Homo sapiens: one gene and its partners. The protein of the gene in region 5 interacts with the protein of the main gene of each other region in a pairwise test. Each region holds a gene or a part of one and is shown on either strand. Other genes may lie near its edges. The genes, in order: ZNF34, KRTAP13-1, APTX, KRTAP6-3, MAPKBP1 and TRIM42.

Region 1 (3,847 bases), on a different chromosome or scaffold from region 5:
TGGCCGGGTGTGGTGGCTCACGCCTGCAATCCCAGCACTTTGGGAGGCTGAGGCGGGTGGATCACCTGAGGTCAGGAGTTCGAGACCAGCCTGGCCACCATGTGGTGAAACCCTGTCTCTACTAAAATACAAAAATTAGCCGGGCGTGGTGGCGGGCTCCTGTAATCCCAGCTACTCAGGAGGCTGAGGCAGGAGAATCGCTTGAACCCGGGAGGCGGAGGTTGTAGTGAGCCGAGATCGCGCCATCGCACTCCAGCCTGGGGGACAAGAGCAAGACTTCATCTCCAAAAAAAGAAAAGCAAAGAAAGCGAAAATCACTAATAGGAATAAAAAAAACACTGCATATTACTGGCCAGGCGTGGTTGCTCACCCCTGAAATCCCAACACTTCGGGTGGCTGAGGCGGGTGGATGGCGAGGTCAGGAGATCGAGACCATCCTGGCTGACGGTGAAACCCTGTCTCTACCGAAAATACAAAAAAAATTAGCCGGGCGTGGTGGCGGGGGCCTATAGTCCCAGCTACTTGGGAGGCTGAGGCAGGAGAATGGTGTGAACCGGGAGGCAGAGCTTGCAGTGAGCTGAGATCGCACCACTGCACTCCAGCCTGGGCGACAGAGCGAGACTCCATCTCAAATAAATAAATAAATAAATAAATAAATAAAAATAAAAATAAAACACTGCATATTACTAAAAGCCCACCAAAAAGCTGTAATAATTACAAACAGTATGGATCTACCAAACAGGAACTGGTAAATCCTCCTCTGGAGTGAGTTTTTTTTTTTTTAGACGGAGTCTTACTCTGTCGCCCAGGCTAGAGTACAGTGGCGCGATCTTGGCTCACTGCAAGCTCTGCCTCCCGGGTTCACGCCATTCTCCTGCCTCAGCCTCCCAAGTAGCTGGGACCACAGGTGCGTTTAATTTTTTTTGTATTTTTAGTAGAGACGGAGTTTCACCGTGCTGGCCAGGATGGTCTTGATCTCCTGACCTTGTGATCTGCCCGCCTTGGCCTCCCAAAGTGCTGGGATTACAGGCAGGAGCCACCATGACCAGTCGAGATTTTTAACATACTTCCCTCAGAAACAAGTGGGTCAAGTAAACAATCTCATGCTTAAAACATAGAGAACACACATTGTTTTCAACATACTGAACATTACCAAAAAAAACAAAGCAACAGAGAAAGTTTCAACAAATCCCAAAAGAATATATCATTTGGCAAAACAATTTCTATCCATATTGTTGTTATATTAGAAATATATGAAAAGTAACCCTCTCCCCAGAGACATATAGAAATGGAAACTAAAGTGGAAATAGAACCAAGCCTACCTAAAGAAAATTGTGCATCCTTAATAGACTCATTTTAACAGGAAAGCCTGAAATAAATAAGTATTCAGCAAGAAATCAAATGCAGGCTGTGGCTCACGTCTATAATCCCAGCACTTTGGGAGGCCGAGGCGGGTGGATCACTTGAGGTCAGGAGTTCGAGACCAGCCTGGCCAACATGGTGAAACCCCATCTCTCCTAAAAAATACACAACTTGGGGCTGGGCGCAGTGGCTCACGCCTGTAATCCCAGCACTTTGGGAGGCTGAGGCGGGTGGATCACGAGGTCAAGAGATCAAGACCATCCTGGCCAACTTGGTGAAACCCCGTCTCTACTAAAAATATAAAAATTAGCTGGGCATGGTGGTGGGCACCTGTAATCCCAGCTACTCGGGAGGCTGAGGCAGGAGAATCACTGGAAACTGGGAGGCAGAGGTTACAGTGAGCCGAGATCGCACCACTGCACTCCAGCCTGGCCACAGAGTGAGACTCCGACACAAAACAAAACAAAACAAAACTTAGCCGGGCATGGTGGCGTGAACCTGTAATCCCAGTAACTTGGGAGACTGGGGCAGGAGGATCACTTGAATTCGGGAGGTGGAGGTTGCAGTGAGTTGAGATTACATCACTGCACATTCCAGTCTGGGCGACAGAGTGAGACTCTGTCCAAAAACAAAAAACAAAAAACAAAAGAAAAGAAATCAGATACAGAATAAGAAAGTAACTCAAGGAGGGCCGGGCACGGTGGCTCACGGCTGTAATCCCAGCACTTTGGGAGGCCAGGGCAGGTGGATCTCTTGAGCCCAGGAGTTCAAGACCAGCCTGTGCAACATGGCAAAACCCCTCTCTACAAAAAATACAAAAATTAGCCAGGCATGGTGGCATGTGCCTGTAGTCCCAGCTACTTGGGAGGCTGAGGTGGGAGGATCGCTTGAGCCCAGGAGGCAGAAGCTGCAGTGAATCAAGATCGTACCACTGCACTCCAGCTGGGGTGACAGAGACAGAACCAAAGCCTATCTCAAAAAAAAAAAAAAAAAAAAAAAAAAAAAAAAAGAAAAGAAAATAGATGGAAAAGTAGAAAAGGAAATGTTATCAGGAACAAAAAAGGAAAGAGTGTATATTTAGGGCAATTTGAATCTATGCTCCCAGGTTAAAATAAAACCATTTTAAATAGATTAAAAAAAAAGAGCAAAAGGCCAGGTGTGGTTGGCTCATGCCTGTAATCCCCATACTTTGGGAGGCCAAGGCGGGAAGATGGCTTGAACCCAGGAGTTCAAGCTCAGCCTGTCTCTACAAAAAATAAAAAAAATTAGCACGGATTGGTGGCACATGCCTGTAGTCCCAGCTACTTGGGAGGCTGAGGTGGGAGGATCACTTGACCCTGGGAAGCATAGCAGTAGTTCTCAGAGTGTGGCTCAGGGACCCTGGGGTTCCATGCATTCAAGTTTGTGTTCGCAACACTAAGAGGACACATTAGAAGCACTTGTAGTAGATTCAGTGACAAGAGAGGGACGTTCCCTCACCCTGCTGCTATTCAACATCCTAGCCAAAGCAGTAAGTTACAGAAAAAAGAAATATAAGCTACAAGGATCAGAAGAAAAAAGACAAAATCATCATTCTTTGAGAATGATAAAAATAATCTACATAGAAAATCCAAGAGTTATCAATCCACTGTTGGAATGACAGGAGTTCCACAGCATTGCCATATACAAGGTCAACAGAGAATAATTAATACCACTTCTATTTGTCAGCAATCAGCAACCGAAAACTGACCATTCACAATAGCTACAAAAACTATACAGTACATTAAGTCTTAAAAAAAGATATGTATGTAATGAACAACATTATAAAACTTTATTGAAGTACCTTAGAAAGGTCTATGGAGAAACAGACAATGTTTCTAAATAGGAGGGCTCAATAACATAAAGATATCAATTATCCCCAAGTTAAATTTATTTTGTGCAATTATAATAAACATTTCAACAGGACATGATATCTGACCAAAATGACTCCAAATATCACATGAAATAGTAACGATCTAAGATTAGCCAAGGCAGTGTGGCCAGGCGCAGTGGCTCACGCCTATAATCCCAGCACTTTGGGAGGCCAAGGCGGGAGGATCACGAGGTCAGATCGAGACCATCCTGGCTAACATGGTGAAACCCCATCTCTACTAACAATATAAAATTAGCCCGGCCATGGTGGCAGGCGCCTGTAGTCCCAGCTACTCGGGAGGCTGAGGCAGGAGAATGGCGCGAACCCGGGAGGCGGAGGTTACAGTGAGCCGAGATCACACCACTGCACTCCATCGTGGGTGACAGAGCGAGACTACGTCTCCAGAAAAAAAAAAAAAAAGATTAGCTAAGGCAATACCAAAAAAACAACCAAAGGAGGCAAGGGTGTGCCCTACTAGATATCAAGACTTAGGCTATGGTAATGGAAAGTGAAGTTTAAGTATAGGAAAAAAGATAATGGAAGACATCTATGGATATGTTAATATACCTGCAATATTAATGGCAATGAAGAAGG
Region 2 (2,833 bases), on a different chromosome or scaffold from region 5:
ATTAAATTATCACTTCTGATGATATCAAAAGGTTATTATCTTCAGCTTTACTTAGTGTGAAACATGAATACAAACCAAGGTGGAATATCAATCCTCCATTCAAGTTTCATGGTATCCCTTATTACACATATGTAGATAACTGAATCATATTGAATTCTCATCAATGAGATGCAGGCATTTGATCATGATTACCAACAAATATTGGGTGACTTCAAAAGTTACTTCAAATCACTTTTGTTTCTCTTCAATTCCATTTTTCTTTTATGTATATCTATAACCATATTGTTCTAAATAGTATTTTTTTCTCTGCAGATTCCTGATATAACTATCAACTAGTTTGCTACCTTATGCTTGTTGGCATAGACACAAGAATCCACATTTTATAAGGGGATCAAGCTAATTCCTGATTCTGATATTTTAATGAATAAAAGTCTGTAAATTTAGTAGACTTCCACTACCTGTAGTTTGAATAACAAAAATCTCTGAGGCCCCCAAAAGTTTGTCTGAATCGCAAACTTCATATGATTTTGAAACCTATTCCTATATATATACACCAATTGTTTCATAATAATTGCCTAATACATCACAACCAAAACCCTAGCAATATAAAACCACCACAAACATAGCTGAATATGAGACCAATGGATTTATTGGATTAAAATGATTTGACTTTTTATACAATTGTGGAAGAAAATCGAATAATATAAATTCTACTTTTAATGTGTATTTCAAGATTTATTTTGAGCTAGTTCTCCAATTACAGTTTTTCAGATGAAGCCTGCCAGCCAGTATTTGGGGACAAAGACAAACTGAGAACTTGATAATTATAGAATAAGAGGCTAATTCTTTCTGTACATGATGAAGACAATAAAGGTTATGAGTAGAGGCATTGAAGGCATTAGCCAACAAAATCAGCAATTTAACAAGATGATCAATAGTAGAAGCCTGATCCACAAGTTGGTCTGTAGCAAGAAGACTGGCAGCTCCTAGAAGCCAAGTAGGTTGGGCGGCAGAATCCAACGCCATAGCCCAGGGAAGGGAAGCCACAGCCTCCATAACCCAGGGATCTGAAGCCACTGGACCCACAGCCCACTGAGTAGCAGCTCCTCGATCCATAGCCCAGGGAGCGGCAGCTGCTGGATCCAAAGCCTAGAGACCCAGAGTAAGTTGTCTGGCAGGGACTGCAGAGCAAGGAGGTTCTGGGACGGTAGCAGGAGGTCTGGCAGGGGCTGGACTCCACATAGGATGTCTGGCAGCTGGTGGGCTCCCAGCAGGTCTGCTGACAGCCCCTATAGAGAGAGGAACCCAGCTGGCACGTGCTGGGAGAGCAGAGGTCAGTGCTGTAGACCTGGTTGCTGGGGTAGGAAAAGCCACAGGAGGAGGCTGGGTAGTGCAGGTAGCCACCACAGGAGCGGGAGGAGAAGTTTCCAGAGCAGCAGTTGTAGGACATGTTGATGGGAGATGTGAGTTCAGCTGAGTTACACTGAGAAGATTCTGAGTTTGCATGCCACATCTGGACAGGACCATTTATATACGTTCAGCCGTGGGTGTGGCACCTTACAGGGTCATCCTTCACACATTTAAGCTCCCACATTTCATATAAGCAACTTAGTAATCTTCTTTGTCATTGCAGTTAACTAACACCCTTCATCTTATATTTATGGAAGAACTCCTTTTGTTTTTACAGCTCTGCGTCAATGAAATGCATTTATGTTACAAATGCTATGACAGTATGTGATTAGTCCCTACTCCATTATGTCCAGGAAAACCCCTCTTATTTTCTCTGCCCATGATTTATACATCTGCTCCTGTTTTGGCTGGGAAATTCTTTCTGTCTTGGGTGGGGATAGCAATGTATTCATCTTTTTTTGTCAGTGGCCTAGAGGCAGAAATCTTATTGTTCACACTCTCCAAAATAGTTTGCCATCTGTTATTTACTATAATCAGTGCTTGTAAGTCCAGTCTCGAGGGCCTATATAAAAGTAAGCCAAAGGAATTGAGAGATAACTAGACATAGATATCATCTTGAACAAATTTTTTTAAAAAATTAGTATTTAGAAAAAAGAAATCAAAACAAAAGCAAAAAATAAATAAATACAAATACAACAATAAGGACCCATGTGAAAAAAAGGAAAGTAGAAGACACTGCTGAGATGAGGTAGGAAACAAGTCAGAGTAGTCACAATAGCAGAAGGATGCTCAGGACTCCATCCTAAAAGCAAATCAAAATGCTTTCAAATAAACTTATTTGATGACTTTTGTATGATGCATTCATATTTGTAAGTGTTCTGGAGCCTACCTGTCTACAACACCTCTAAACCCCCACCTCAAAATGTTGACTGCCTTCTGAGCATTTGCGGGGTAACACCAGCTTCTATGTTTTTCGTGACTCTGTCCCAGCCCTCTTTAAAGAGGTGGATTTAGGTTTTGTGGTGTTGAAAAGTATAATTTGGAGATCCTCATTAAAAACACAATATTAGGAATATAATAATAGATATAAACATGGATATTAACTTAGAATAAAAACTTCCATAGTTAACAAAACCCAAGATGTCACAAAATCAAGACAATAATATACCTTTATCATCATCCTCATCTATAATCTTTTTCTACATTTTTTGGTTGCATAGTCGGTCTTTGATCATCTCTACACATGACAATGGTTTTGTCCACATGATTTTCTGTAGAACAAATGGAAGTAAAACTTGGTGTTTCTTTTAGAAATAGTACATCAAAAATACTTGAATTATTTTTTATGACACAGAAAAGTTTTTTTTTTTTAACATTGCCATTTGTTGTGAGCAACGCCACAGCTGTAACACCCTCTGTCATT
Region 3 (3,847 bases), on a different chromosome or scaffold from region 5:
TTACTCCTTGATCCATGGGCTGCAGAATGGATGTTGTTTTATCAAGCACGAAAACAATATTTATCTCCCTGTATAATATATCTCCATCAGGGATCTTGGGTGCATTGTCAATGAGCAGTAATATTTTGAAAGGAATCTTTTTTTTATGAGCAGTAGTTCTTAACAGAGATCTTAAAATATTCAGTCAGTCATGCTGTCGTCCAGGCTTTGTTGTTCCATTTATAGAGCACAGGCAGAGTGGACTGAGTATAATTCTTAAGGGCCTTAGGATTTCTGAAATGGTAAATGAGCGTTGGCTTCAGTTTAAAGTCTCCATCTGCATTAGTCCCTAACAAGACAGCCTGTCCTTGAAGCTTTGAAGTCAGGCATTGACTTCTCTCTACCTGTGAAAGTCCTAGATGGCATTTTCTTCCAGTAGCATCAAAGATCAAAGATCACTGATCACAGATCATTGTAACAGATATAATAATAACGAAAAAGTTTGAAATATTGTGAGAATTACTAAAATGTGACACAGAGACCTGAAGTGAGCACATGCTGTTGGAAAAATGGCACTGAAAGACTTGCTTGACACAGATTTGCCACAAACTGTCAATTTGTAAAAAATGCAATATCTTTCAAATGTAATAGAGCAGAGCACAAAGCAGGTATGCCAGTATGTATGTGTTTCTTGGGGAAGAGAGGAGAGAGAGGGATGGGCAAGTGGGACTAGTTCTGTGAAGAGGAACGGGAGGTGAAATACATAAGCACTGTGGAGTTACAGTATGATGAGCTTAACTTCAGGCCTGAGGGACTTGAGATGGATCAGGGCAGGGCAAGTTTCCAGGACTGTGGTGGATATTATGGTAGCCCCCCAGCCACGTGGAGTTATTTAACTATTAAGTAAAAAATGTAGTTTCTCTGTTGTACTAGCTACATTTTAGATGCTCGATTGTCACGTGGTGGGTAATTTATTGGACAGTTCAGGTTTAGAACATTTCCGTCATTGCAGAAAATTCTATTGGACAGCACTATTTGAGGTTACCTGATTTCTGGCCTTGTGTGGTCTATCAGATCACTTGAGTTCTTTAAGGAATAATCAGAATTTCTTTCTGACGGATCCCCTCAACTCTAGAATGAAAGATATAGAGCTGGGCCGGGCGCGGTGGCTCACGCCTGTAATCCCAGCACTTTGGGAGGCCGAGGTGGGCGGATCGCCTGACATCAGGAGTTCGAGACCAGCCTGGCCAACATGGTGAAACCCCGTCTCTATTAAAAATACAAAAAGTAGTCAGGTGTGGTAATGCACCCCTGTAATCCCAGCTGCTCAGGAGGCTGAGGCAGGAGAATTGCTTGAACCCATGAGGTGGAGTTTGCAGTGAGCTGAGATTGCGCCACTGCATTCCAGCCTGGGCAACAGCAAAACTCTGTCTCAAAAAAAAAAAAAAAAAAAGATATAGAGGTGAAAAATAGAGAATTGGGATTTATCCACCTAGATGTGAGAATGGATGGGATTGCCCAAAGAGAGGAACAGAGCATTCCATCGTAAGAAGAGCCATAGAAGGAAGGGAGAGAGAAGGCAGGAAAGAAAACTGGGATAATTATTACTCTCATGCAGAGAGTAAATAGCATTTGATAATTCACTTGTAAATATTTATTGTATGCCCGCTGTATGCCAAGTGTTAGATTAGGTGCTACAGATATATTGATAAGCGAAAATGGACATGACCTCTATTGTCATAGTTTTCAGTTTATGGAGTTTTACTGGAGGGACTGGGTTGAAGATTCAGGAACACCCATCCTTCTGCACTTGCCATATTGTAAAACACTCCATTTCTAAAAGTTGGAATTGGAGGCTGAAACGGGTGAAGTTACTATTTAAGGTTGGTTACATAACTGTTGTGCAGTCACTACTTCAGCTTCTCAGGAAGTAGTAAAAAGGAACACCATAACTTGAGAACTTTGGGGGAATAAAGTATCTGTATTGATGGAGGGCAGAAAGGGTAGTTCTTATTATCCTGCATCTGCCAGCCATGCTCTCTGCTGCTCACTGGATTCCTCTCTTGCCCTGCTCTCAAAATCTGTTCTCTTCTGGCTTCTCTTATTGTCAGTATGAGTAGTCAGTCACCACATATTTCCCAATGCCTAGTGAAGACATATTTCACTTCTCAGTCTGTTACCTGCTCATTCATCTGTTTCCAGCAAGTGCAAACAGATGCCCCTTGGAACGCATAGCATTTAAAAGTGGGACCTGCCCATAACACCATCATCATTTGAGGCTCCAGGTTTAGGATTTTAGATTTATAGCTGACTCTTCGTGCACCTGCATCAGCTCCTTCACAGAGACTTGCTGAACTGCCTTTTTGACCTCTCTGGCTCACGTTATATTAACAGCCTCCTCACTAATCTCTGACTCTGGATTTCTCCATGCTAGACTGCCTACACACAGCTGTTAAGTGTTCTTTGGATGCTGTTGTTTTATCTTACTGTGAAGCTCAAAACCTGGCAGTTGTCTCCTCTTGATTATGGTAAATGTAAACTTTTCAGCCTAGTATTCTTTCAACACCTCTGTCTTTTTTTGTGACTCTCCGAGGCAGCTCCTCTGGTTCAGCCAACTAAGTCTGCTTTTACCCCGACCTATGGCTTGCCATTGCCGAAATCTGTGTTGTCACTTGTGCTTTTTAAAATGGAATGGCCCCTCCCACTCCATTTCTTCTTTATCAGTCCCCTTGGCTCCTAGCCATCTCTAACCAGGAGGTTTCTGGAAGCCTGTACTGGCTAATACAGGACTTTTTACCTCCTTAGTACTCATATACTCGCACTAATCTTATTCATTTGAATTTGCATCTCCTCAGCTGTCATTTGCTCACTTTGCCTTGCATTGTCTTGTCTTTGCAGATGGTAATGAAACTGATTTTTAAAAATCGGGTTTCTTTTTTCTTTGCTTATGGACATGAAACTTGTGCAGAGGGCATATGTGCTGCCTTGACTATAGGCAGGTTTCCGGGAGAGGCATGTTAGAGGCTTGAGCACTGATAAGAGTCTGGAGTCTAGAGAGGCAATCTCTCTCTGCCCATAATTCCCTGTTTCACCTCATTGGGTGATCTCATCCTCTCTCTCTTTGCCTCAGCCTCTGTGACATGTTGATGCCTCTCAAATATATGCATTTAGTCCATTCCCCTCTCTTGAGCTTCATACCCACATATCACAGCTTGAGTCTTGGATCTTCCACAGGCAACTTAAAATAATTACATTTCAATATGAAATTGGTCCTTCTCTCTTCACTTTCCTTTTTATCCCCAAATTATGTCTCCTTGTGTATTTTTCATTTTTGTTAATGGGCATCTTCCAAATTTGAAGTCTTTGGTGAGTGTCTCGCCTTTTTTTTTTTTTCTTGAGATGGAGCCTTGCCCTATCGCCCAGGCTGGAATACAATGGTGCGATCTCTGCTCACTGCAACCTCCGCCTCCTGGGTTCAAGCAATTTTCCTGCCTCAGCCTCCCGAGTAGGTGGGAGGCACCTGCCACCACACCTGGCTAATTTTTGTATTTTTAGTAGAGATAGGGTTTTACCACGTTGGCTAGGCTGGTCACAAACTCCTGACCTCGTGATCCGCCTGCCTTGGGCTCCCAAAGTGCTGGGATTACAGGCCTGAGACACCGCACCTGGCCAGTGTGTCCTTTTATTCCTTTGTCATTCCCCAAATGTCATCAGTAATTAAGTATGTCTTCCAGATTTCTCCTGGCTCTTCTTGCTCTCCATCCCCTTTGCTTCGGCCATTGTTGAGGTCTCATCTCTCTTCTGAATTTCTTGTCTCTTTCTCTTTTACTGATAGTCCACATGGCCATAAGGGTTGTTTTTCAAAAGA
Region 4 (2,600 bases), on a different chromosome or scaffold from region 5:
AAAGCATCTGGAGATTTCTCAAAGAACTTAAAGCAGAACTACCATTTGACCCAGCAATCCCATTACTGGGTATATACCCAAAGAAAAAAAAATTGTTCTACCAAAAAGAAACATGCACTTGTCTGTTCATCGCTGTGCTATTCACAAGAGCAAAGACATGGAATCAACCCAGATGTCTAACAATAGTTGACAAAAGATAATGTGTTTCATGTGCACCATGGAATACTATGTAGCCACAACAAAGAGTGGAAATCATATTCTTTGCAGCACCATGGATGCAGCTGGAGGTGATTATCCTAAGCACATTAATGCAGGAACAGAAAATCAAATACCACAGGTTTTCACTTATAAGTAGGAGCTAAAAATTGAGTGCACATGTATATAAACATGAAAGCAATAGACACTGGGACTCTTGGAGTGGGGATGGTGGGGGGTGGTAAGGGTTGAAAAACTACCTTTCACATATTACCTCAGTGGCATGCAATTCACCCATGTAACAAATATACACATATAACCCTTGAACCTAAAATAAGAGTTGAAAAAAATAACGATAAAAGCAAAAAATCAAAGAAAAAAATTTTGGACAATAAATAAGATACAAACACCAAGATTTCTCTTGTGGATTAAATGTGTTTATTAGGTCAGCAGAGAAACAAACTACAGCATGAAAGTCATCAAAGGAGTCACTGTGACACCATCATCCTGATAAAAGGAGAAGTGACAGGTGAACTTCACCTTATCCCACTTCATGATGGAAACTCAGGGTATTTTTGGGTTAGATGGTAGATCAACAACAGATCATATTAGACTTCCACTGCAGGATATCATCAATCAAGGGAAAGGCTCAGAGCATGTGGGCTTCAGAATTGGTGAATTGCAATGTCACAGGATAGAGGGTGAGAGTCTCCCATGGTGTCCTCAATAGTAGTAGCCAAAGCTGGAGCCATAGCCAGAGCCGCACCTATAGCCACAGCCACAGAAGGAGTGGGAGACATAGCCATAGCCACAGCCATAGCCACAGTCCAGGCCTCTGTAGCCACAGCCACAGAAGGAGCCATAGCCACAGCCCAGGCCTCCATAGCCACAGTCCAGGCCTCCATAGCCAAAGCCCAGGCCTCCGTAGCCACAGCACCCATAGCCACAGCCGCCATAACCACAGCCCAGGCCTCCGTAGCCACAGCACCCATAGCCATGGCCACCATTGTAGTTTCTGTAGTAGCTGCCACACATGGTGTTGGTTGTTGAGGTCATCCTTGGGTAGGAAGGAGTGTAGGTGACTTCAGTATGGACACTTCTCCGCAGAGGGCCTTTTATATGCCTCAGTGAATCAGAACATAGCGTGCCCCTGCAAAAATATCTCTAAAGGCCTTTCATTGTGCTGAGAAGTTCTGGCCCTTACGTATCTCTCTGATTTCATATCCTGCTACTCTCCTCCATTTATCTATAATGCTCAAACTCTGCTGGCTTTTTGTCTTTTAAAATGCAGCAGGTTTCTTCTCACAATAAGGCCCTGGCCTCTGCACTTACTGATTTCTCTTTCTTAAAATAATACCAGGAATATTTGACTCATTTTCTATTTCAATTGAAATGTTCACTTCCCAGAGAGACTTTTAATGGCCACCTTATATTAATTAGTCTACCTCCAGTAACTGAACTTAATGTAACTCACTGAGTTTTATTATTCTCACAGGATTCTTCACTGTTAGAATCTATTTCATTCATTTTTAAAATCAGTCTCTCTATCCCTTCTGTCTCATTGTAACCTGCAGAAAGTAGAGACTTTGTCTATTTTGTTCATCTGCTCAATCTGCATTTCTTATAACGGTGCCTGATACAGCAGATTCTTAATAAAGATTTGATGAATTAGTGAAAAAATAACCAAATGAATGACATGATGCAACTTTCTATACTCAAATTCTGTGTAGAATAATCACAATCTTTGTTCTATGCTTGGGGTAACTGGGGATAAATTCATGTACTCTGGGATCCTTTTGGATCATATGCAAACCAGTGGAGGAATTTATCATGGTGATTTTTTTCTGGTTTGAGAATCCATGCCTTTTCCGATTGTTAAGGTGGTGGTATATATCCACTAAAGTTTATGAACTACTGTGTGCAGTTCCGAAATTCTGACTAAATGTTCTACTTGCCTCTTATTGATATGATACTTTGCCAGTCTCACATTGATCTACAAAGTATGATCCCTAGGTTGATCATTGGTAGTTCTGCTACATTTAAGAGTAGCAAATGAATTAATATGTACTATTATTTGTTTATATTTTATTCTAATTGCTTTATCATAATAAATGACTAATAATTCATTAATAATATTTAATAAGTGGATGGAATAAACGTGACAAATTATCACAGGGAGCTTCATAGAAAGTCAGCTCTCATAATTAAGGCTATCACCAGAATGCATTTGGGCCAGAAATGTGGTTTGCTGATGTTATTCTATCCAAGTCACCACTTTAAAAAATAGTAACAGGAATTCTGCTAGAAGATGAAAAGTATTTTTACAATACTTTTGGAAATTTGGAATTAATATATTTTAAAATAAGCAAATTCATTAAATATAAAAAGAAGGTAAAATATGTGAA
Region 5 (3,847 bases):
ATCCAAATTGCATTTAGTTACTTCTCCTTAGACTTCTGTGGTCTGTAACAGTTCTCTGGTCTTTCCTTACTTTTCATGATCTTGACGTTTTTGAAGAGTATTGATCAGTTACTCTGTGGTATGTACCTCAATGTGAGTTTGTCGGATGTTTTCTCACGCCTATATTGAGTTTATGCATTTTTGGTAAGAATACCACAGAAACATTGTCACATCCTTCTTAGTACATCCTATCATGGGCTTAATGATGTTGATATGAGGATGTTAACCTTGATCACTTGGTGAAGATGATTTCTGCTAGGTTTACTCATTGTGAAGTTATTATCTTTGCCTTGTAAATAAGTATCTTGTTGCCCAATCTTTTTGAGCCAAACCCTCCCTAAAGTTCTAAATACCCAACTCTGCACCATGAGAGGCAGTCAGTACCCACCCAGGGCCTGGCATTACCTAAGTGTGCCCATACGGTCCCCTGATGCTAGATGCTGTCCATTGGGGCTGACACACACCGAGCGGATGCCCACGCGGGGATCCAACAGGGATGCATCAGCTTTGTCTCCTCCAGGCAGCTCTGTGTCCAGCAGGGCCTGGGTGTTCCCATCCACATAGATGATTTTAATGAGGTCCTAGTGGAACAGGTTAGAAAAGGTGGATGAGGCAGGCCTGACCAGTACAGCTGCAAGGGGCAAGAAAGCTGAGCAAAACAAACCCTTGGACCACAGAGCACAGCCAAATGAAGGCTGGAAGGCCAAGGCCTAGGGACCAGTTCCCAGTAACAAGGTGCAATAGCTGTGGGGATGGGGGCACTGAGGGTGAAGCGGGGCCCCACAGCCTCAGGGCTCACACTGCTGAGGATGTTTCGGTGGAGGGTGGAGCCATGCACCCCGGAGCTCTCTGTGTTCCACAGGCGGATGGTGTTGTCTGAGGAGCAGGTAATAAAGGAACTGGGGGGCAGGCAGGCCTGGTTACTATCCTTCACCTCGGGGTAGACCTGAAGAGGCCGAGGGAACACAATCAGACCTCCATTCGGGAGCAGTCCTCTGCCTACCCAAGGAGATGGAAGGGAATGGGACGAAAAAGGGAATGGTGGCCAGGACTTAGCCCAGTGCCTGTCACAGGCCATACATAACTGGTATATACCCTTCAACATGACCAAGGGGAAGCACCCACTATATATCAGGCACTCTTCTATGTCTCCCACTTACATTATTTCATTTTATTCTTAGAACAATTAGGTGAATCAAGTACACCATTTTACAGGTGAGGAAACTGAGGCTTGGTCAAATTCAATAACTTGTCCAAGATGACCGAGGCAAAACTAAGGATGGGGCACACTGGGGAAGCCTGTAACATTCAAACTCAGTCCCCAGGATCTATCCCAGGGAAGTCACTGGAGAAACAGGGAGGCAGCAGGAATCTAAGATTATACTTGGGGATCCCTATTTTCTGTCCTCAAAATGGTATCCCAGCCAACCTGGCCAGTCTCCAGCCAGCCAGCCAGCCCACATACCTCCACACTCCAGACGCAGGAAGAATGATACAGAGCCGAGTACACCTTGCCCACTTTCTTGGGGTCCCTCACATCCCAAACATAAATGCTATGATCGTTGTACACACAAGACAGCCACTGATTAGTAGGATCAAAGGTCAAGGCAATGGTGTCTGGATACCTGGCATTCGCCACTCCAGAGAAGAGGCGACTGTAGGGAGAGGACAGGGCACACTGGTCAGACTGAAGGGAATGAAAAGAGAAGCCAATCCACAATGGAAGGAGCAGTGTGTGAGGAGCCCTCCCTGGACCTGCAGGTTTGGAAGTAGTTGCTTGAGAGAAGAAAGGAGCCCCTACTAGCCATCAGCAGGAACCTGACCCAGCACTAGCTGCTGGGCCATGGTGTTCGGATGAACACAGCTTCACAGAACACCAACGTTAGACAAGGTACTTCTATGGCTGTGATGGGGCAAAACAAAAACAAGACTACTCTGTGCACAGATAAAAACAAGATCACCATACAAACCACAACGAACCATGACAATGACCAAACACCGCCTTTCCCATCTACATGACTGCTGGCGGCTTCTTGACCAAATACAGCTTTAGCCCCATACCTTTCCTTCACCTCTTAGATAAATTAACAAGATGTTCCACTGTAGAATTGCCCCTAGTTCCGGACAGCATCCAACCAGAATACTTCAATCCCTTGAACGATTCCTAAAATCACCCAACGCAAACCCAAATCCCATATGTCCCTCCTAACACCCACTTACTGAGACTCTCCACAGTTCTCCATGGGGTGGGGTCTCCTTGGTTGCAACAAGTACCAATAAACCCAAATTCTTCTGTCTAAAGAGGTGTTCCCAATAATCTTTGGGGCATCAATACACTCTTCACCTGCTCCCTGAGGCACTGACAAGAAAGACTGGGCAGGGGTAAGGCTACAAATGGAGGAAGGGGGGCCCACATAGCTCACCTGGCCTCGGTGACGCTAGCAATGTCTGTCCCCAGAGCATGGGGTCGGGGCAAGGTGCTAAGGAAGTGCAGGTTAGAGGGGTTGAAAAGGCGCACGGTGCCATCAGCACAGCCACAGAAGATGTAGTCTTGGCTCACAGAGATGCAGTGGGCCACTGTGGTCTGTGGGCAGAGTGGCTCAGCTCAGCAAGGCCACCTGCCCACTCAGTCTTCTCTCCTCCCCACCCATCAACAGCCACCTGCCAAGAGGAGGGACCGGCCAAGGCAGGGGCAAGGGAAAAGCCGCCCAGCTGCCCTGTTCTGAGCCCCTCAGCCCTGTCCAGCCAGGGATTAGGAACCGAGGATTCTTCTAGGCACCAGAGGATCCAGTAGGAAAAGCCCAGTGAAGAGAAAGAAATAGCATGAGAAAGAGAGGAAGGTGCAGGCACCACTTACTGTGAAGCTGTCTATGTTCTGAGCGGAAGAGGAAAGCAGGGGAAAGAGACAGAAAGAGCAGAGAGGAGGCAGTTATACAGATCACCAAGGGCTGGAAATGGGCCAAGCTCTAGCTCCCCCAAGCTTCGTTCTCCTGGGATCTCCCGTATGCACAAGGGACCAGCCCCTAGTCTGAAGCCCTGGGCACTAGTTCTCCCCTGAGCTGAGACATGAGCAGACCCTACCCCTGGGGACGGAGGTACTTACCCTCAGCTCCACCCACTTGTCCAAAAGCCTTCGATCACTGAACTCGCACAGCAGCCCTGAGGACGTGATGCAGAAGGTACTGTCCGCCTTTTTTCCTCTGCCACAGGCCACATCAGTGAATAGGTTGTTCCGTAGCTCTCCCAGCAGCCCTGAGCGGCCCAGCAAGGGCACAGTGGCATTCACCTGTGGAGGCACACCACTGTTACACCCCCATCCACCCCAGAGCCTGCCCCTGGAAACTGGGCCCTAGGAGAGTACAGGGGACGCCTCCAGCACCTCCTTGCTCTTTGGGCCTACTCCTCAGCCCAGACAGCATCTGGCTCATCCAAAACTTCTGCATGACTGCTGGGAATGCAGAGAGAGGCCCAAGTGGGGCAGAGTCTCCTGGGTTGGGCTGGGCAGGCCCTGCCAGGGGCCTTGGTGGCTACTCCCAGCTTCAGCACCTCACCTTTGAGGTCTTGCTGTCATCGAGATACCAGAATTTGATGTGTCGGTTGCCTGCAGTGACAAAGTAGCTGCAATCCTCAGAGAAGGACACTGCTGTCACCCGACTGGACACCTTGTTGGAGGCCACCACAATGTTTTTCTGGAGGGGATGCCAAAGGAAGAATCAAGGCTCTGTCTCTTGGAGCTAAGAAGACAGTGACTCAGAGAATGGAGGAGAATTAGAATTTGTACTTGACAAAGTGTTTCTTTCCAGAATTT
Region 6 (3,847 bases), on a different chromosome or scaffold from region 5:
CTGTGGGTGCTGAAAGTGACCTTCCTGGCAATCATTGTTTCTGAGTGCACGGGGTAGGGGGAGGGCAGGGAGTCCCCTGAGGAGCGTACCTTCTTGGGCCCTGTGGGGAAGAGCTCATGGATGGCACTGGAAAGCTCAACAAAGTCCAAGGGCACGTAGTTTATTGAGTGCAGCCGGAGCTGTGGGTCAGGCCTGTAGGTGGTCTGGATGCCGTCCTCGATCTGGTCCACCAGGATCTTGGCTGACTGCAGGAATGCCACCTGGCCAGTCTCCTTCAGGGCTTCCTTGGAGTAGGCGATCAGACCATCCATCTCGTTCACTTTCATGGTTGTAACATACACATATTTTTCAATTTCCTTCTGCCTGGACACTTCTAGATTCTCTATCTGCTCCATGATGATCTTCTCTTTCTCCTGAAGAATGCTGCGCAACTTGAGAAAGCCATTTCTGATCTCTTTTCGCTTTGCCTCCTTGTCAGCTTTAAAGCTGTTTTTTAAGATGTTGAATTCCATTAGGTCATTATCAATTTCATATCGGACTGCAAAAATGCCAAGTTAGTTACTTTTAAAATTTTCATCTCCCCAGGTGTCAAAGTCAGTAGCAAACTAGAACAAATTACCCTAGGCTCCAAGGAGGTGAATGAAGAGGGAGGGAAGGCACTTGTAGTTGGGCTGAAACAGGCTGGAATAGGTTTATGAAATGAATTTGGTCCTCCTTAGTACACCCTTCCCCTTCTTCCCCCTCTGATCCTTCTCTGGGATATTTCTATCTTGTAACAGTAATCCCTATGGCCTTGAGTCTGAGACTGGAAGTTCAAGCCCACCCTTGATATTGGTTTTTACCAGATTTCAGTTGTCTGCAAGTTGGACTTGAGAAGAGGTGAAGTCACAAAATGACTGGTGCCTGCTTTTCCCTGTAGGAAACCTAAGCTTTTGCAGTGGTAAGAGGAAGAACTAAGTTTCTGCCGACTACTTCTAAAGGTTGTCTTGCATCATTCGCTAAGCCTCCAGCCCTATACAACAGTGGGAAATCAGCAAAGCTTCCCTTCATTGAGGTGGCTCTCTTAGATGCCCTTTTCCCCCCTTTGTCCCTCTTGTGGTTCAGCTATGTCACTTCTCCTTGCCTTTCCCCCACTCCTTTCAAAAAAGAGTCTGCTGTCACACTTCAAGGAAAACCAGTTTACCCTGTGTCCCCTCATATGGCATTTGGATTTTAAGTTCACTCAGTCATTCAACAAACATTTACTGGAGCCCTGTTACATGCCATGTATCTTTTAGGCACTAAGAATATGGATATGATTATGAGAGGGCATCTGTGCTCAAGGTATGAATAAATCCAAAGATACTACAGTTTAAGGATGCTATGGCAGGGTAAGCACGTGGCACATCTCTATCTGTGAAATGAGCTTTATATGAAAGGTGAAATGAATACCTTTGTTAGCTTTAAAGGATTTGAGGCATTAAGGAGCAATTTGAAGAATGTCACCCTTCTGTGGTCTATGCTACGGGTAAGGTTCTTCTCATGAAAGGTAAACTCTTCAGTGAATTGATGGGCAATAATCCTTACCAAATTTTACTCAGGAGTGGGGATGACTAGCTATTTTTGCACTTGGTTCATAACATTATCCTGGGTTCATAGGAAGCTGGACTTCTGTGAGTGGTGGTCGTTGTAACAAGGGTGTGCACTTGAATATGGGAAACCCTAGTGTTCTGTCAGATCATGAGAACAGGGACCACATTACCACTATGACTATGGTGTGTAGAGGTGAGCAAATGTATTTGTTGAGTAAAAGCCATTCTTTCCTGTCTTCTAACAACTCATTGGTGAATGCCAGCAGTGTCACTCTCTGGCTAACTCCCTGAAGCCCCAGTGTTTTCTTGCCACCTCCTTCCTCACACTGGCTCAGAAAAGATGAGGTGATGCAGGTGAGACTGAAAGGGAAACTACCAGGGTCCGATTTCAGTGCTGAGAAGTGCTTCTTGCCTTCCCCAATGCACTGTGACTGTGGCAGCCAGAATTCTACTTTGCGCATTATTTTCTTTGACTATTCAATAGTTACCTACTGTTAAAGATACTTGGATAGGAAATTTCTTGCTGTATTAGGGATTGATTAGGCTTATGTAGAGCAAAGTCCTGAGAAGCAGGATAAAAATTTCTTAGATGAGAGGAAAAAGGCATCTCCAGGAGGAGAAAAAAGACAGAGGAAGCCACAAATGTCCCACCCCAAACCTCTGCAAATATGAAACCTCTGCAAGAGCTGATTTTAAAGCAAAGTCAAATCAAGGTCTCTTTTAGGCAATACACTTAAAACTAGTTGTTATTTATTAAACACTTTTTATGGACCAGATCCATATGTTTTTATCTATCACATATATCTTCTTACAATGAAGATATTGTTTCCACTTATAGATGAAAAAGCTTGAGGCCCTGGGAAGTTAAGTGACTGTATAGTGTTACACATCAGGTAAATGGGAGAAACTAGGCTCTGTCCCTAATTCTATTTGTCTAGCTCCAAACTAGGTTCTTAATTGCTTCAGCTGTGGCTCTCAGCCCTCTCTGAGTACCAGAATAACCTGAGAGAGTGTTAAAAAAAAACTCTTCTCTTGGACTCATCTGCTAAGATTCTGAATCAATGGGCCTGTGTTGGGGCTCAGGAAGCCAGGTGAGGCAGTTTTCAGTGAGGTTTAGAATCGAACCCAGAGAATCTCCTGGGATCATGATAAAGATGCAGATTCTGATGCACTAGGCCTGGGGTGGGTCCTGAGATTCTGCATTTCTAACAAGCTCTCAGGTGATGCCAATGCTACTGGTCCTTGAACCATACTTTGAGTGGCAGGGACCTAAACTTTTGAGCTCCCTTTATTTCAGTGGTTCTCGACCTTGGCTGCACCATAGAATCACATGAGGAGTTTTTTAAAATTCCATCTTGCTGAGCCTGCACCTCTATGTGGATGGGACAGGGGCATCAGTTTTTAGTAAAGCTTCTAGAATGGATCTTCTCCCTAGGTCCCCCAGTTTCTCAATGTGTATTCCCAGATCACTTGCTTTTGAATAACCTGGAGATCTGTTTAGAATGCCAATTTATGGTACCTCCCAGAAAAGTGAATCAAATGCTCACGAACAAGTTTGAACCCTGGTTAAAAAATTTTTGTGTGTCTGTTTCTTCAGCAAGGATGAAAGGTTAAATTCTTTACTTACAGCTAATATCTAATTTACCAATTATCCCTTTTTCCCTTTCCAACTGCTGGGTTTCCTGGAATTTGGACAGGCATTTTCCCCCCACCTTGAATTGAGCTTTGTTGTCTGCTCAAATTTTAGGTGCCCTGGACTCAGAAAACTATCCTAAGTTTCTCCTGTATTAAGGACGAGGTTCTCTACAGAGGGATGGAAGGCACAGTAGGTTGTAGGCGGCAGTGCCTTCACCATGCTGAGGACCCAAAGAATCCAGCCAAGCCCTGGCCTAGGGAGGCAGTGAGTCCCACCTTCAGAAAACCCTTTTGGAACCAACAGTTCTACCATTTTCTTGGTAATGTGGTTCCTGCAGGGTTCCTTTAATATGAAGTCTTCCCTGGTGGTGGTTCCAAAATTAAATAAATGTCAATTGACAAGCAAGGTTTCCAGGTATGTGGCCATTGAGAAAAATTAAGGTATTCCTGAAGCTACTGAGAGGTCCGGGGTGATGTGGTCATTAGCAAAGCCTGTTTCTGACCCACCTTTACATCCAATGGGACCTTTCTGTGCAGGTCAAGGAAAAGCTGCCTCCCTCCCAAATGTGTAGGCCTATCTGAATGATGGAGACTAACAGATCTGACAAAGAGAAAGGCCTGGGTTGATCTGGTGCACTTTG

Evidence for each region.
Region 1: the proteins of MAPKBP1 (region 5) and ZNF34 interact in a two-hybrid assay, tested with the Homo sapiens proteins (one large-scale study listed by BioGRID).
Region 2: the proteins of MAPKBP1 (region 5) and KRTAP13-1 interact in a two-hybrid assay, tested with the Homo sapiens proteins (one large-scale study listed by BioGRID).
Region 3: the proteins of MAPKBP1 (region 5) and APTX interact in a two-hybrid assay, tested with the Homo sapiens proteins (one large-scale study listed by BioGRID and IntAct).
Region 4: the proteins of MAPKBP1 (region 5) and KRTAP6-3 interact in a two-hybrid assay, tested with the Homo sapiens proteins (one large-scale study listed by BioGRID).
Region 6: the proteins of MAPKBP1 (region 5) and TRIM42 interact in binary tests that used the Homo sapiens proteins (3 or more experiments, as listed by UniProt).

The regions. Positions count from the first base shown.
Region 1 is NC_000008.11:144,780,505-144,784,351, forward strand, and holds part of ZNF34 (zinc finger protein 34), read right to left. Parts: exon of another isoform or gene 3,821-3,847; intron 1,370-3,820; exon of another isoform or gene 1,323-1,369; intron 462-1,322; exon of another isoform or gene 371-461; intron 1-370. UniProt on the Homo sapiens protein: May be involved in transcriptional regulation.
Region 2 is NC_000021.9:30,394,704-30,397,536, reverse strand, and holds KRTAP13-1 (keratin-associated protein 13-1), read right to left. Parts: upstream 1,507-2,833; 5' UTR 1,451-1,506; coding exon 932-1,450; 3' UTR 715-931; downstream 1-714. UniProt on the Homo sapiens protein: In the hair cortex, hair keratin intermediate filaments are embedded in an interfilamentous matrix, consisting of hair keratin-associated proteins (KRTAP), which are essential for the formation of a rigid and resistant hair shaft through their extensive disulfide bond cross-linking with abundant cysteine residues of hair keratins.
Region 3 is NC_000009.12:32,991,305-32,995,151, reverse strand, and holds part of APTX (aprataxin), read left to right. Parts: intron 1-3,847. UniProt on the Homo sapiens protein: DNA-binding protein involved in single-strand DNA break repair, double-strand DNA break repair and base excision repair.
Region 4 is NC_000021.9:30,591,097-30,593,696, reverse strand, and holds KRTAP6-3 (keratin-associated protein 6-3), read right to left. Parts: upstream 1,258-2,600; 5' UTR 1,231-1,257; coding exon 919-1,230; 3' UTR 642-918; downstream 1-641.
Region 5 is NC_000015.10:41,812,397-41,816,243, reverse strand, and holds part of MAPKBP1 (mitogen-activated protein kinase-binding protein 1), read right to left. Parts: intron 3,729-3,847; coding exon 3,591-3,728; intron 3,326-3,590; coding exon 3,143-3,325; intron 2,915-3,142; coding exon of another isoform or gene 2,897-2,914; intron 2,624-2,896; coding exon 2,463-2,623; intron 1,695-2,462; coding exon 1,505-1,694; intron 986-1,504; coding exon 839-985; intron 621-838; coding exon 445-620; intron 1-444. UniProt on the Homo sapiens protein: Negative regulator of NOD2 function. It down-regulates NOD2-induced processes such as activation of NF-kappa-B signaling, IL8 secretion and antibacterial response. Involved in JNK signaling pathway.
Region 6 is NC_000003.12:140,684,413-140,688,259, reverse strand, and holds part of TRIM42 (tripartite motif-containing protein 42), read right to left. Parts: intron 539-3,847; coding exon 1-538.